Linked DNA regions of Homo sapiens: region 2 is linked to region 1. The links come from fine-mapping of genetic effects on gene expression. Tissue or cell type: whole blood. Region 1 holds a variant in brackets; the other region holds the start of a gene. All regions are shown on one strand. Distances are between the middles of the regions.

Region 1 (2,757 bases):
TGCTCTCATCTCTGGTTATGATGATATACTGGCAATGCACATAAAACATTTGGAATGGAGCCTAGTGCTACAGATGAATGTTTGTGTCCTCCCCAAATTCACATGTTCCAATCCTAACCCCCAACTTGATGGTATTAGGAGGTTGGATGTTTGGGAGGTGATTAGATCATGAGAGTAGAACCCTCATGAATGTGATTAGTAACCTTATAAAAGAGTCAACAGAGCTCCCTCACCCCTGTGCCGTGTGAGAACACAGTGAGAAGATGGCCCTCTGTCAACCAGGAAGCAGACCCTCAGCACACACCAAATCTGCTGCAACCTTGATCTTGGATCTTCCAGCCTCTAGAACTGTGAGGAATAAATTTCTATTGTATAGAAGCCACCCAGGCTATGATATTTTTGTTATAGTAGTGTGAACAGACTAAGACAAATGTCAAGGAGCTTGGCTGAACTGTGTTTGTGTTCTAGTGTTTTGTGGCAGGTAGAACTTGAGAGTGATGAAACAAGATGTTTAGCTGAGGACATTTCTATGCAATATATTGAAAGTGTGGCTTGGCTTCTCCTAATAACATGTGAGAAAAGAGAAATGACTTAAATATGGAATGGTGAAGTAAAAAGGAAGCAGAACTTAAAGATTTGGAAAATCCTCAGCCTATTCATATTGCAAAAAATGAGAACACTACAGGTGTAGCGTAAACAAATGACTGTTTGCTAAGGAGATCAGAGTAGAGCAACAATCCAACCTGGGCTCTGCAATCCACTGCTGGCCATGAGCTTGGGAGCAGGCCCTGCTTCTGCAGCAGGATGAGTGTGGTCTACATCAAAGTAAAGGGAGGCACTGACCATTGAGCAGCTACTATGGTCAGGCTCTGCCTATGTACAGTATCCCTGCCAGGTGGGGTGGGTCATCCCCATTTTACAGATGAGGAAACTGAGACTCAGAAAGATTAAGTCAGTAAGAGACCATGTTAGAATTCAGACCAGAGCTAGGAGGCTCCAAAGCCTGTCTTTCCTCTTCACCCTGCTGCCTTAAAAGATTGAGAAGGGCACTTCCAGTTTACATGGTTTGTGGATCTGAGGACGCCCAGAGCACATGCTGGGTAGACAGGGTAAGGAGGGGGAGAAGCAGAGTCAGGATGAACTTGTCCGGTGTGAGGGACAGGGGCCACCCAGCCTGCCCTCAGTGCTTCTATGGTGGCACTGATGGGTCACTGGTCATCAATACCCAAGGCTGCAGATGTTATAGGCACTTGAAACATAAGGTTCATGAAGGCAAGAGCAAGATTTACAGAGCATGTGATACAGGCAGAGAGCTTCACCATCTGGATCTCAGGTGCCACATGCCTCAAGCCTGTCCTCTCCAACGTGCCAAGGAACCGTGGGTGGGTCCACCTTCGCAGACACAGAGAAGAGTAAAGTATGAAGTTCTAGGATAACCATGCCTTCTGTTCCCAACTTAAAACATATGCCTAGAGCTGGTGGGGCCCTGAGGCCACCAAGTCCAACCTCTGCCCCTCAGCAAGACCATACTTGGGCTACTGTAAACCAGCTGGCACCAGGCCTGTGCTGACCAGCAGTTTCTAACAGATTTAAGTTCCGGAGGCCCAAGGAGATTGAACGTCCTCAGTGCTGT[C/T]CTTCTTATTTGTTTATTTATTTATTATATATATTTTAAGAGATGGAGTCTTGCTATGTTGCTGAGGTTGGAGTGCAGTGGCTGTTCGGAAGTGCAATCATAGCTCACTGCAACCTCCAACTCCTAGGCTCAAGTGATCCTCCCACCTCAGCCTCCCAAGTAGCTGGGACTACAGGCATGTGACACTGTGCCCAGCTTTTTAAAAAAATGAAATATAACTATATTTTCCAAAACAAAATATTGGTGAGAAAAGTGCCATTGTTTTGCAGTTTTTAATGTAATTTTTTATTGATACATAATAGAGGTATATATTTTCAGGGTACATATGATAATTTAATACACTGATATCATTTGTAAAGATCAAATCAGGGCAATTGGGATAGCCATCACCTTAAATATTTGTCTTTTCTTTATACTAGAAACATCTAAATTATTTTATTATTTATTTTTTAATTTTTAATAGAGACAGGGTCTCTTTATGTTGCCCAGGCTGGTCTCGAACTCCTGAGCTCAAACGATCTACTCACCTCAGCCTCCCAAAGTGCTGGGATTACAGGTGTGAGTCATCGCGCTTGGCCCGAATGATTCTCTTCTAGCTATTTTGAAATGTATGATAGATTATTGTAAAGTGTAGTGAATACTGATCCATCAAGCACTAGGTCTTACTGATTGCTGTTCCGATTCTGGAAAAAGCCCCCACGTTCCTAGCCCACTTCCTATGCACTCACTCCAGGGTGAAGGATGTGAGGTCCTCTTCCCAGCACTTTCACCCAACGGCCTCCATCACTACTGCACTAGCCCGCCCCACTCCTTGGAGTTTAACCAGGGCAGAATGTTCTCATGGCTCTAGACTTCTGATGTCCTTGCTACTTCCTTCTAAGAGTCTTATGTGGGTCTTAATCTGGGGCCTCTGGGTGGAAAGAGGGATTCATGGAACCCCTGAGATCATATGCAGAAGTTTCTGTGCTTTGGGAGAGGGGCTATAGCTTACATCAGATAGTCAAAGAGGTCTGCATTCCAAGGTTTCCGAGCCCCTGGGTGCCAAGCTACAGTGACCCGTCCTGTTTAATGGTGTTCCTGGACAGAGCAATGGACAGAGCACAGTGCTTAAGAGCAGGGACTTA
Region 2 (2,757 bases), 51 kb before region 1:
TCAGCTTGTAAGCCTGGAGCTAAGCCCCTTCCTCTCCTGGGCCGGGGGGCTTTCTGACAATTTAGGGTGCTAGTCTCCAAACTCGCCTGCTGGTGGAGCTTGTTAAATAGATCCATTCTGGATCCCCATTCTGCACCCCCTGAGTGATGGGTTGTATTAATCCAGGTATTTATTGAACACAAATTATGTGCCCACGATGAGGGAAGAGCAAACAAAGCAGATACAGCACCACCCTCAGGGATTGGGGAGTGGCAGCAACCCTCCTGGGGAGAGGTCCCCAGAATCTGGATGTGTACTCGAGACTTTTATGATCAGGCCAGTGTTTGGGGAATGGTGGTTATAAAATGAGAGGCTGGGGCAGGGAGTGGGGATGTTCTGAGAACCTGTCCACACACTGACAGCCTCAATGGGTTCTGTGGCACCCCTGAGCCCTGGGATGGCAACTGCAAGAATTTACTATCCATGGTCACAGATCTTCAGGCCCTGTGAAGCATCCAGATCCCCGCTCTGAATAGGCCAACTGGGCCAGGACCGGGAGTCAGGAAGGTTTCCGCCTTTTTTTTTTTTTTTTTTTTTTTGAGATGGAGTCTTGCTCTGTCGCCCAGGCTCCAGGCTGGAGTGCAGTGGCACCATCTCGGTTCACTGAAATCTCCGCCTCCCGGGTTCAAGCGATTCTCCTGCCTCAGCCTCCCACATAGCTGGGATCACTGGCACGCACCACCATGCCCGGCTACTTTTGTATTTTCAGTAGAGACGAGGTTTCGCCATGTTGGCCAGGCTGGTCTCAAACTCCCGACCTCAGGTGATCCGCCTGCTTCGGCCTCCCAAAGTGCTGGGATTACAGGCGTGAGCCACCGCGCCCGGCCCCTGCTTTCTTAAAGAACACGCGGCAGCTGTGTGTTACACGCTATGGCTGAGGTCAAGTGTGAGGGCTGGAATTGCTGACTGCCATGTTCTGGGTCTACTGAAAATAGCTGCCTGGCCTGGGAGGCCCAGTTCAGTCCGGGTGTGGGTCCCGCTTCACCTCCAGAGCAGCGGCAGCCGGTAAGGGTAGAAGCGGCCTTTGGAGAGGGGTCTCTGCAGCGGCCTGGGGACAAGATGAGGGCTCCTTTGAGTCCTGGGGTGCAGGTTATAGTAGCTAAAGGGGAGGTCTGAGACAGTGGGGTCTGGCTCCAAGGTAAAGAAGGAGCAGCAACCAAAAGGCCTGATGCGCAGCGCACCCATCGCAAGCATGGGCAGTGCGTTTAAGACTGGGTGACTCACTTTTTCTCCTATAAAATGGGCGCACGCAGGCCCCAGCTCAGCGCCAGAAGGGGGAGCCCCGGCGCGCCGGCAGAAGACAAAGGAAAAAAGCGTGTTTGCAAACGGGGAAGCGGCGGCGTGCTGCCGCGAGGGGCGGGGCGGGGCCGGGGGAGGAGCCCGCCTGCCGCCTGCCAAGCCCAGTGGTCCTGGCCGTGCGCCGGAGGCAGCGGCGGCGTGGCGCAGCGGCGACAGTAAGTGCGGGCCGGCTCGGGCTCTTCCGGCTACGGTCCCGGCCGCCCCCAGACTCGCGCTCAGCGACCTCCCTCCCGGGCCCTGGGGGCGGCTGCGGGCTGCCAGGGGAGCCGCAGGACCCTACCCCATCCGTGGTCCCTTCCCCACCGTCCCTCCTCTCTCTCCTTGCTCTCTGCCACCCCTCTTTCTGGGTCTCTATCTTCTCTTCCCCAAATCCTCTCCCCTCCTCCTCCCTGAGACTGGACCTCACCGCCTGTATGGTGGGGGCCTGGTATGGACCCGTCGGCCCGAAGTATCCAGACGGTGGCTGATTCTCTCGGTCCCAGCTGCGGGGCCTGAGGCTGGGGCTGTTTACACCGCAAAGCCGGTTCTGCCGCGGCCAGTAGGCGGTGCCCTGCGCTTCCCAGTGCCTTCCCACAGGTTAGCCCTACCAGCTCCCCACCCCGGTTCACAGCCCAGGAGATCGAGGCACAGAGGGGCGAGCCACCTAGCCAGAGTCAGGAACCTCCTTGGAACCAGCACCCAGGCTTCCCAGCCCAGATGAGGTTTTGCCGCGGCCCCAGCAGTGCCTGCCTCCTTGTGTGGGGCTGTCTGTCTGTGCATGGCCGGGCTCCCGCAGGTGACCCAGGAGCACGTTCCAGGCCACAGCCAGCTTGTTTTGGGGAAGGTTGGGCACTTCCTTGCCTGCCTTTCTCTTTATTTTTTAATCCAGAAGCCAGCAGCTAGCTTTTATAAAGACTAATAAGACTTTGCTCACTCCAGTGCCCTGGCCTGTGACCCTGGTTAGAGAAAATTCCTGGCTCCTTCTTCAGAAGCTCAGTCAAGCCTTGACAAATAGACGCTAGGAACTGAGAAGGGGGCCCTAGCCAGGTGTGGTCCTGAGTGACAGGGCTGGTGGACCTTCTAGCCGCCCCCACAGGTAGCTGGAGCCTCTGGAAAGAACCACTTGCCGGTTCTCTCTTGTTCTATGTGGGTGGGTCATGATTATTTTTTACATTTTAAACACTAATTTTTAAAATGTAACAAGTGAGCTTGTTACATTTGTACCATTTTGTGCCAGACAAAATAGCATAGACTGGGTGGCTTAAACAAAATTTGTTTCTCATGGATCTGGAGGCTGGGAAGGGCAAGATCAAGGTGCTGGTTGATTTGGTTTCTGATGAGGGCTCTCTTCCTGGCTTGCAGACAGCCTCCTTCTTGCTGTGCCTTCACATGGCTTTTCCTCTATGAGTGGGTGCATGTGGAAAAAGCGATTTTCCACAC

Evidence for each region. PIP is the estimated chance that this variant, and not a neighbour inherited with it, causes the effect.
Region 2: it holds the start of SLC29A3, and the variant in region 1 is fine-mapped to the expression of SLC29A3 in whole blood (INTERVAL, PIP 0.91).

What each region holds. Positions count from the first base shown.
Region 1 is chr10:71,368,870-71,371,626 of GRCh38, forward strand. It overlaps a transcript of SLC29A3 not described here. Among named protein-coding and RNA genes, the nearest start is that of CDH23, 27 kb to the right of the region's middle. The variant C/T (reference allele first, on the strand shown) is at 1,634.
Region 2 is chr10:71,317,818-71,320,574 of GRCh38, forward strand. SLC29A3 (solute carrier family 29 member 3) reads left to right here and starts at 1,442. Exons shown (of 6, transcript NM_018344.6): 1 at 1,442-1,493. The coding sequence starts at 1,493. It overlaps LOC124902445 (a long non-coding RNA gene), which reads right to left and starts at 1,846. Exons shown (of 2, transcript XR_007062183.1): 1 at 1,745-1,846; 2 at 152-1,087. RefSeq lists a silencer at 1,239-1,688.